Linked DNA regions of Homo sapiens: region 1 is linked to region 2. The links come from fine-mapping of genetic effects on gene expression. A gene starts in region 2. The other region holds a variant in brackets. All regions are shown on one strand. Distances are from middle to middle. Region 1 has its middle 24 kb from the start of STAM2. Region 2 holds the start of STAM2 (signal transducing adaptor molecule 2).

Region 1 (5,381 bases), 24 kb after region 2:
ATGGGAGAAAATTTTTGCAATCTATTCATCTGACAAAGGGCTAATATCCAGAATCTACAAAGAACTTAAACAAATTTACAAGAAAAAAACAAACAACCCCATCAAAAAGTGGGCAAAGGATATGAACAGACACTTCTCAAAAGAAGACATTTATGTGGCCAACAAACATATGAATCATAAAAAAGCTCATCATCACTGGTCATTAGAGAAATGCAAACAAAACCACAATGAGACACCATCTCATGCCAGTTAGAATGTCCATCATTAAAAAGTCAGGAAACAACAGATGCTGGAGAGGATGTGGAGAAATAGGAATGCTTTTACACTGTTGGTGGGAGTGTAAATTAGTTCAACCATTGTGGAACACAGTGTGGCAATTCCTCAAGGATCTAGAACCACAAATACCATTTGACCCAGCAATTCCATTACTGGGTATATACCCAAAGGATTATAAATCATTCTATAAAGACACATGCACACATATGTTTATTGCAGCACTCTTCACAATAGCAAAGACTTGGAACCAATCCAAATGCCCATCAATCATAGACTGGATAAAGAAAATGTGGCACACATACACCATGAAATACTATGCAGCCATGAAAAAGGATGAGTTCATGTCCTTTGCAGGGACATGGATGAAGCTGGAGACCATCATTTTCAGCAAACTAACACAGGAACAGAAAACCAAACACTGCATGTTCTCACTCATAAGTGGGAGTTGAACAATGAGAACACATGGACACAGGGAGGGGAATATCACACACCGGGGCATGTTGTGAGGTGGGGGTCTAGGGAAGGGATAGCATTAGGAGAAATACCTAATGTAGATGACAGGTTGATGGGTGCAGCAAACCATCATGGGATGTGTATACTTATGTATCAAACCTGCACGTTCTGCGCATGTATCCCAGAACTTAAAGTATAATTTTAAAAAAAGTGAAAAAAAAATATATCTGGTATATTATGGGAAAGTAATTAAACCAACCTGAGAGGTGTATTAATCATGTCTTTCATTTTCTATATTTTGTGAGGCTTTGACATATTGGGGTTTTGTGGATTCAGGGAGGGACTGCCCCTCTCAGGGATAGCAAATTCCTAGAGATAGCAAACAACTTGGCTTTGAGAATGCCTTTGATATACAAACCAACCACACCCCCAGCTCCTCCTTCCATCAGACTCCTGCAGTGTCCTCCTGACCTCAGCCACCCTAGGGCCAGGTACTGGACAACTAGAGACCACCCCTATAGTCCAGAGCCCGCCCAAATTATTCAAGCTATCCAATCCTAAGCCTGCCTAGCTCCTTATCCTGCCTTGCGCATTCCTTCACATGAAAACCACAATAAAGGCTTTTGCCCATGCCTCCTCCTTGCATCTTCTGCTGCCTAACTGACCCTGGTGGCTTCCCCATGTGGCTCTGCATGGAATGGAGTGCCCCCTTCTCTTGAGAGCTGTGAATAACAAATTATCTTTTTCAGTGACAATTGTCTCCTGCCTGACCTGTTGACCTCACCATACCTGAATAAAAACAAAATCCCAGGTACATTTTAGAACGAGAAGTACAGAGAGTTCGTATAGAGCAGTGGTTCTTGAAATGCAGTCTGAGGAACCCTGGGATGCCTGAGACCCGTCAGGGAGTCTGTAAGATCAAAATCATGCACAAGTATCCTCACACAATGCAAAATAGCCAAACGGATTTTAATATAACAGAGCATGGAAAGACCATTGATACGGTTACAGATTCCTCATTGCAGCTAACCTTTGAGAAACTACCATTTTTTGAATATTAGTGTTGTATCGTAGAAAAATATCTATAGCTAACCATAAAGATTTAAACTACTTCTCTCCCTGTTCCAACTACTTATCTGTGAGAGGCCAGATTTTCTTCATATACTTGAACCAAAACAACATGTTTGTAACATATTGAATGCAGAAGCAGATATGAGAATGCAGCTGTATTTTATTAAGCCAAATATTAAAGAGATTTGCGAATGTGAAAGTGATGCTCTTTTCGTGAAATTTGTTGAATTTGGAAAACATCTTTATTTTTTAATAAAACCTATGGTGTTCATGATAATATGTAATATGTTTATTTTTGAATGAATCAATCTTTTCAACGTTTCTCAGTTTTAATTTCAAATATGGTACATATCAACAGATATGATCAATGTAAAAGAAAGCCCTTTGGGGGCCTCAATAATTCTTACAAACAAAGAGAAGTTCTGAGAGCAAAATTATGAGAGCAATTGATACAAAGGAATAACAACAGTCACAACTGGAAAGACTAGGAAGAGCCAAGCTGTGAAACCACTTGAATTGCAAGCTAACATAGGGATTTTTGTTTTAAATCATGGAAATAATGACTTTGAGCAGAGAGATAATATGATGAAAAAACTTTTTAGGACAAAAACTCTAGTATATATGTATATATGTGTGGAATCATTTGAAAAAGTATGTGTATGAGTCTGTTTACTATGTTTTGATGGAGGGAGACATGGTGAGAAACTGGAGAAGCCAGGCAGGAAACTGATGGAACTCTGTAGACACAAGGTAATTGAGGTCTTAATGAAAGGTATAGTGAGGGAATGAAAATATTAGCTAGTATTTGCTGAAATTTGTGAAGTGCTTACTATGTGTCAGGCACTTGGTGTGGATTATCTCATTATCTTCTCAACAATCTAATAATTAACTTTTACAAAGTGCATTTTAAAGATGAAGATAATAAAGCACAAAGATGCTAACGGAAGATAGCAAGTAAGGGATGAAACTAAGATTTGAAGCCGCACAGCCTGACTGCAGAGCCTGGACAGAAGAGTGTCCAGCATAGAGGATGAATCATT[T/C]CAGACACCGCTGATTTTTAAATGAATCAATCTTTTCAGTGTTTCTCAGTTTTAATTTCAATTATGGTAAATATCAACAGATGAAATCAACATAAAAGAAAGCTCTCTGGGGGCCTCAATAATTCTTAGAAACGAAGATAATTCCTGAGACTAAAATTATGAAAACAGCTGATAAAAAGGAATAAGAACAGTTAAAACTGGAAAGGCAATGAAGAACCTTTTCATTGAACTTTATGTGACAGTTCATTTCTTTATGTGACAGATGCCTTCAGTGTCCTCCCTGATCCCCTTACTGGGCAGTGCACCCAACCCCAGCCACTGTGAGTACTGGCTGCTCCTGACTCACAGCTGCACCCTTTGAGGGAGTGAGGGGCGTTACCCTTGGCTGACAGGATATGATTAGAAAGCCTGGAAGGCGGCTGGTGGTGGCCCATGGCCAATGAGTCACTGTGCGAGTGTATACTAGCCCAGCCCTCTTGCCTCCAGGCAGGAAAACCTCTGTGTGAAGTGCTCTACTTGCTCCATGCTCTGGCGCTCTCTGTACCTACGCAGGCTGAAGCTGAGCCTAGACATCTCCTGAAACCACACCTTTGACTCGCTTCTTCCCCTTCCCTCACTCCCTTACAATGTCTCAGGAAAGCACTCTCTCAGTAAATCACTTGCACATGAATTCCTGTCTAAGCTCCGCTTCTAGGAACCCAACTAAGACACTGAAAATTCTGTTTTAAAATATCTTTCGGAATTCCTTTTTTTGGTCTCAGCTTTTATAGCTATCTCTGAGATGGATCTATAATGTGGTCACTCATTAACATTTTTGGAATCTGGATCTCTTGAGAAACTCATTAGATATGAGGTGGGGGTTTTAAATTCATTCCAAGTCATAACTGCAGTTAGAACCTTGAGTACTTTATTTTTTTTCTTAATCAAGCCATTCTGGGCACTCTACTCTTCCCTTAGCAGAACAGAATCACTTTGAGTACAGAAACCTCCATATTAGTCATCTTTTTATTTCCTCAGCACCTAGCATAATGTTCTGAACTTTGGAGGCATATAGTAAATGTATTAAATAAAAAGAAAAACACCTTCAGAACTTACTAAATCATTTTACCGTGATTTTTTAAAAAGACATTTTTTAGACTAGTTCTAGGTTCATGGCAAAATTGAACAGAAGGTCAGAGATTTCCCATATACCTCCTGCCATCACACACACAAACTCCCAACTATCAAAATATCCCACCAGAGTGATACATTTTTTACAACTGATGAACTTACATGAACACATCATTATCATCCAAAGTCCATAGTTGACATTACAGTGCACTCTTGGTGTTGCACACTCTGTGGGTTTGGACAAACGTATAATGGCATGGATCCACCATGTAGTGTACTCTGTGTAATATCATATAAAATGTTTTCGTGGCTGTAAAAATCTTCTGTATTCCACCTATTCATCCCTTCCTCCACCAACCCCTGACAACCACTGATCTTTTTTTTGAGACGGAATCTCACTCTGTCGCCCAGGCTGGAGTGCAGTGGCGTGATCTCGGCTCACTGCAAGCTCCGCCTCCCGGGTTCATGCCATTCTCCTGTCTCAGCCTCCCAAGTAGCTGGAACTACAGGCGCCTGCCACCATGCCCAGCTATTTTTTTGTATTTTTAGTAGAGACGGAGTTTCACCATGTTAGCCAGGATGGTTCGATCTCCTGACCTCATGATCTGCCCGCCTCAGCCTCCCAAAGTGCTGGGATTACAGGCGTGAACCACCACACCCAGCCAACAACCACTGATCTTTTGCTGCCTCTACAGTTTAGCCTTTTCCAGAATATCATATAATTGGAATCATGCAGTATGTACAGCCTTCTGAGATTGGCTGTGTCTTTTTCATGGCTTGACATTTCTTTCTTGTATGATCTCGATACTGAAGAAATCTTTCTGAGAATCTAATATAATTATTTTCCTTCATGTGAGTGAGACTCACCTAGAAGAATGTGACAAAACTCAAGTAGAAAGGTCCCATCCCTTCTACCCCTCCTATTCGGGGTCTTGATATTGCAGGGCTGAGGTAAGGTTAGGAATGTGCATTTTTAGCAACACCACAGGAGATTTTAATGCATTAAAATAATTGGGCCACATTTTGAGAAACAGTTGTTAGATATGAGTTCTAAATTTCTTTTCAAAGAGTTAATATGTCAGTATGTTCAATTCTTTGCCTTCTACTTTTAAACTTAACTTCCTCATAAAGCAACCTTTTTCGATCACCTGCTCCACCCTAACTCATTCCGATCACCTGCTCCACCCTAATTCATTCCGATCACCTGCTCCACCCTAATTCATTCCGATCACCTGCTCCACCCTAACTCATTCTGATTACCTGCTACCTGCTCTGCCTTGACTCCCGCCAAAGCACTCACCCTGTCATTCTCTTTAAATTAGCCAATCGGAATTAGTTTACCCTGTGCAGTCTAACCCTAGCCAATAGGGGAACGACACAGAAGCAGGGGCCACGTGCGTCAGGGATAAGAACCCCTTCCCCTCCCTTGTC
Region 2 (5,381 bases):
ATTCTCCTGCCTCAGCCTCCCCAGTAGCAGGGACTACAGGCACGCGCCACCATGCCTGGCTAATTTTTTGTATTTTGGTAGAAACGGGGTTTCACCATGTTGGTCAGGCTGGTCTCAAACTCCCGACCTCCAGTGATTTACCCGCCTCGGCCTCCCAAAGTGCTGGGATTACAGGCGTGAGCCGCTGCGCCTGACCCTTGCTTTGTATTAACGATTTGAAATGAAAAGTTTTAAGATATTAAAAACGTAATATATAATTTTTCTTCTATGATATACGTGCAAGTCCAATTTGAGCTCTTTAGTATTTCATTCTACTTTTTCTAATTCCATTCTCTTGTCCAGAAGTTACAGGAGGGCCTCAAATTCATTCTTTCACCCTTAAAATGCCTTTGGGGTTCTGAATTCAGTCATGCTTAAGCTAATATGTAACTACTTGAAGCTCTGGCTTATGGCACTGGCCATAAAATAATCTAGACACAGTTTTTTTGTTTGTTTGTTTTTTTAATCTCAACAGCAGTGCCTCCTTTACAACTGTAGGACTAAACTGTGATCCACTAAACCAATGCTGGGGCCTCGGGAGCCAGGCAGGGAAAGGTTTAGAACAGAACAGACAGAGCAACTCTGCCTACTTGTACCAGAGAATTTTTCCATCAGAAAACAATGAACTTTCAAGAAAAATTTATATTGAAGAAAAGAATTCACGGTTTTTAAGTTTTAAAATCATTTGTCTAATTCTATTTTGCGCCTTCTGTTTTATTTCATTAGAACAGAATCAAAGTGTTCATAATAGCAATTTTTTAAAAGTACAGGTTGCACAAAGGTTGTATGATTCAAACAAAAGAATACTGCAATGAGGCGTTCCAAAAGGAAACAGTGAGCCTTAAGAGTGATGTTTCCCAGATTTACGCCAGTCACCTGTATTCATCCACCAAAAAAAAAGTTTAATGAAGTAAGGAACATACATATTTGAACTATTTACATATATTATTTGACTCAAACATGTTTTTTAAAATGGCTTAGGGGATTACACAACGTATCAGAATAGGGCACTTTCTACAGTCTCCTAATAACCAAATGTTAACTATGAAACAGGGGAATTACTGCTGAGATGTGCAGTATTCTTCTGAGTCTCCCCGCCCCAACCCCATTTCCAAGTTCTAAAAATTTACCTAGGGTTCTGTTAACTACTGCTACAAAAACAAACAAAAAACAAACCTGTAGTCCCAGCTACTCGGGAAGGGGAAACGGAGGTGGAGGCTGAGGTGGGAGGAATTCTAGTCGCACCTGGGCAACATAGTGAGACCCAGACTTTCGAGAATACATACATATATTTCTCAGTTTGTTTTAGTGTTACTCAAATTTCCTAAATAATTTCGTATATATCTTATCCATGTTTTTCTCATTCTATAGTCACTGAGAGACCAGCGCTTTATGACTGCAACATGTAAAATACTTGTTGTTCTGGAGTGTTTTGAGACTGGAGATTTCCTTTTCATACTCTAAAACCGAACATCTCCTAGCACCCGCGCAATCTTTGCAATCCGGGGATGAAGAGCAACACCTTTACAATTGTAATAAATCTTAAAGCTACCCTATCAGGGATTGAATGCATGAGTAATATAAATAATGGGGAAGTAAGTTCTTCCTATTCAATGCGGTTGTCTAGGTGTCAAGTGTCTAGTGTTGGGCTTCTCTAGACAGCAGGGTCTCCACTGCTGCATCATCTTCAGAAAACGATGGGGCAAAGACGGAGGTAACCAGCTGTCGAACGAGCAGGAAGTTTTTAATCACCAACTCCACAACTACTTAATCAGTCCAGTCTCCAGCGAGCCCTAGGCTCTTCCCAAATCCTACGCTTGGCAAGGAGAACGGCCCTTTGAGGGTCCCCAAACTCAGGCGGCAGGAAGCACTCCCCAGACCGCTAGCGACGCGCCGAGGTTGCCCCAGAAAAATCCCAACGTCGAAGGAGCGGGCGGCACCGCCCCTCCCCTCCCTTCGCTTTGCTTCCTAGTCCCCGGAGTCGCTACCGCCCACTTTCTAGCCGGACAAACAGCAGTCCAGGGCCAGGCACACAGCAGTCCAGGACCGGGCACAGCACTCACCCACGTCTTGCTCGAAGGGGTTGGCGGTGAACAAAGGCATCTCGCCGGCGCCCGAGCCCTAGTCGCTGCTGTCTAGCTGACACTCAGCAACTGCTACCCGCCGGGTGACCCGCGGCCGCGGCTCCCTAGACCGCTCCGCTTCGGCCTCCGTCCCTGCACTTCCGCCACCGCACCTGCCCGGCTCTTGCCTGACAGGCCGGCTCGGAGTCCACCCTTCGATCCCGCGCTCCTGTCCCAACTTTTCTCCCGGGGCGAGATCCCTCCGACCATGGGCGTCCTCCCAAGGCCTTTGTCGCTGCCCCTGTCCCAGACTTTTGTAGGGGTCAGGCGGCCGCTACGGCCACCTTTCCAGCGCTAGGACCCCGGCTAGCCACGAAGCCGGGGACCTTCGGAGCCGGAAGTAGTCCCGCCTGGAACTGGACGACCCCGGAAGCTGCAGTGCCAGCGGCGGCGCGGCAGGGGGCGCGGTTACCCGTGGTTTTTCGCGTTGGACGACGGGCTCTGAGGGCCAAGTTCTTGTCACGAATTTAGTTTGTTTCAGAGCGGCAGGACTCGTAGCTAGAGAACGAGGACCCACGACGCGTACGCGTTACAGTCCTGTTTCCCTAGAAACGGAGCTGCCGGCGCGGAGGTGGCTTTGAGATTCTGCGAAAGACCTGACTGCTCTTCAACAATTATTGTGTTGCACCCTCCCAGGCGCCCAGTCCAAACCCCGTCAGAATAACCACCCGGGACAGCGGTGGTCGAAGTAACTACGCCTAACTTTTCGCTTTCCATCGTGTCCCCTCCATAAAAACACTGCTGGGCCCCCGGAATCCAAAGGCGAAGGAGGCACACTCCCTGCCTTAGACTTGTTGAGAGTTTTATAGGGGCAGTGCATAACGTACATGATGGTGTATGACGATTCGGATGGTAGTACGAGTCATAAACTCAAATTCCAACAGCATCCAGCCAGGTATTTAAATGAATGCAAAAGCCCAAGCACCCTTCCCACCCACATATTCTCTGTTCCTCTTAGAAAACTGTAGTAATGATTATGTTGCCTGTCTCTCCTCCTCATTAGATTATAAACTCCCTGATAAGTTTTGGTCACTACTATATCCCCAGCGTCTAAAACAGTGTCCCAAGTAATAGACGCTCAATGCTTTTCGAATGAAGCTGTAACTTTCTAACTGAACAGTGCGTATCTAAAGATGTCAACTACTGGTAAATTGCAGCCATTTATTGAAATGTGGGTCCTACTAGAGTTTGCAATTTTTCAATGATGTTTAAATGTTGAGAATTACTCCAACATTTTAAATAATAGATTAATCAAAACCATTTTACAAACTCTAGTATAAAGACCTGATGCTATAGAGAGCTCATACACATTCAGAAAGGTGGTTGCATTTTATAAAGTTCGGGGCACAAATGAGAAGGAATCGTGCAGAAGGGGCTGTTTTTCATAGAACGTTGAACCTAGGGATGTTCAAGATAAATTGGGAGGCCGGGCATGGTGGCTCACGCATGTAATCCCAGCACTTTGGGAGGCCAAGGCGGGCAGACTGCTTGAGGCCAGGAGTTCAAGACCAGACTGGCTAACATGGCGAAAAACCGTCTCTACTAAAAATACAAAAATTAGCCAGGCATGGTGGCGCAAGCCTGTAATGCCAACTTCTTGGGAGGCTGAGGCACGAGAATCACTTGAGCCCAGGAGGCAGAGGTTACAGTGAGCCAAGATCAGGCAACTGCACTCCAGCCTGGGCAACAGAGCAAGACTCTGTCTCGAAAAAAGAAAAAAAAAAAAGACTTAGAGATTTTTTGGACAGATAAAGACTTTTTGTCTAAGACTTAGTGTTGGAATGGAAAACAAGGCTGACTAGGTATAAGAGGAAACAGATTGACAAGAATTTTAAAGGGCAAGCTGGGAATTTTTTATTTTGATTAAGGCACTCAATAATTATTTAAGGATATTGGGTAGCAGAATAGTAAAAAAAAATTTTTTTTGAGATGGAGTCTCACTCTGTTACCCAGACTGGAGTGCAGTGGCGCGATTTGGGCTCACTGCAAGCTCCGCCTCCTGGGTTCACACCATTCTCCTGCCTCAGGAGAATGGCCAAAACTGGCCATAGACAAAATCTCTGCAGCACTGTGACATGTTCGTGATGGCCATAATGCCCACGCTGGAAGGTTGTGGGTTTACTGGAATGAGGGCAAGGAACCCCTGGCCCTTCCAGGGTGGAAAACCACTTAAAGGCCTTCTTATGCCACAAACAATAGCATGAGTGATCTGTGCCTTAAGGACATGCTCCTGCTGCAGTTAACTAGCCCAACCTATTCCTTTAATTCGGCGCATCCCTTCGTTTCCCTTAAGGGATACTTTTAGTTAATTTAATATCTGTAGAAACAATGCTAATGACTGGCTTGCTGTTAATAAATACGTGGGTAAATCTCTCTTCGGGGCTCTCAGCTCTGAAGGCTGTGAGACCCCTGATTTCCCACTTCACACCTCTATATTTCTATGTGTGTGTCTTTAATTCCTCTAGCGCCGCTAGGTTAGGCTCTCCCCGACCGAGCTGGTCTCGGCAGCCCTTGTTGAAGGAATACTTATGGCAATGGTGATCACCGCTATGGTAGCTACCATTAAATTACTCGTTGTGATTGGTTGTCCCGCTTTCCTCAGGTTTTCTTCTGCCATCTGTGACAGCTTCTTGGTCTGTCCCCAGGTGGGTGGCTGTGTTTGATGGGTATAGCTCACGACAGTTGGGGTCCTTCTCAGTGTCAGTCTCAACATGGCTGCAACCGGGGGGGGGGGTCCTTGGGATCCTCCCAGAATCTCTTCCTTGGCATCTGGCTAATGATAAGGTTTCAGGTGTCTTGATGGTATCCAAATCGGCTGTTGATTTTGGCCTGGAGAAATACAGCATAACCTCTACCCCAAGTTATTATTTTACCTATTTCCCAACTTTTTGTTACCGGATCTCTCCACCAAATCAGTTGTTCTGCTTCTGTCTTTGCATCTGGTTTCTGTAGATGCTGTTCAGCTGCTGATAACATCTGGCCTTCTTTGGGCAGGCTCAAAACATTTAAAGTTAATAATGCTAGATTCAATTGTGTATGGGCTGTCCCATAATCCCTATTTCTCCCCCTTTTTTGTTTTTGTCATTAGTTGTTTATCTGTATGAAATAGTAACAGCATTTTTAATTAATTGTGTGGAATGAACCACGTATGAAGCAGCAGAAATGACATTAATAGGCATATTAAAAGCAGTCCATACCTCAATTACAGCTACAAGCTCC

What was found.
Region 1: its variant is fine-mapped to the expression of STAM2 in whole blood (TOPMed, PIP above 0.99).

What each region holds. Positions count from the first base shown.
Region 1 is chr2:152,197,492-152,202,872 of GRCh38, forward strand. No RefSeq gene overlaps it. Among named protein-coding and RNA genes, the nearest start is that of STAM2, 24 kb to the left of the region's middle. The variant T/C (reference allele first, on the strand shown) is at 2,841.
Region 2 is chr2:152,173,501-152,178,881 of GRCh38, forward strand. It overlaps STAM2 (signal transducing adaptor molecule 2), which reads right to left and starts at 2,263. Exons shown (of 14, transcript NM_005843.6): 1 at 2,103-2,263. The coding sequence starts at 2,142. LOC105373689 (a long non-coding RNA gene) reads left to right here and starts at 2,033. Exons shown (of 3, transcript XR_923477.3): 1 at 2,033-3,057. It overlaps LOC105373688 (a long non-coding RNA gene), which reads right to left. Exons shown (of 2, transcript XR_923475.1): 2 at 5,360-5,381. RefSeq lists enhancers at 1,801-1,850, 1,901-2,040, 2,201-2,724, 2,201-2,620.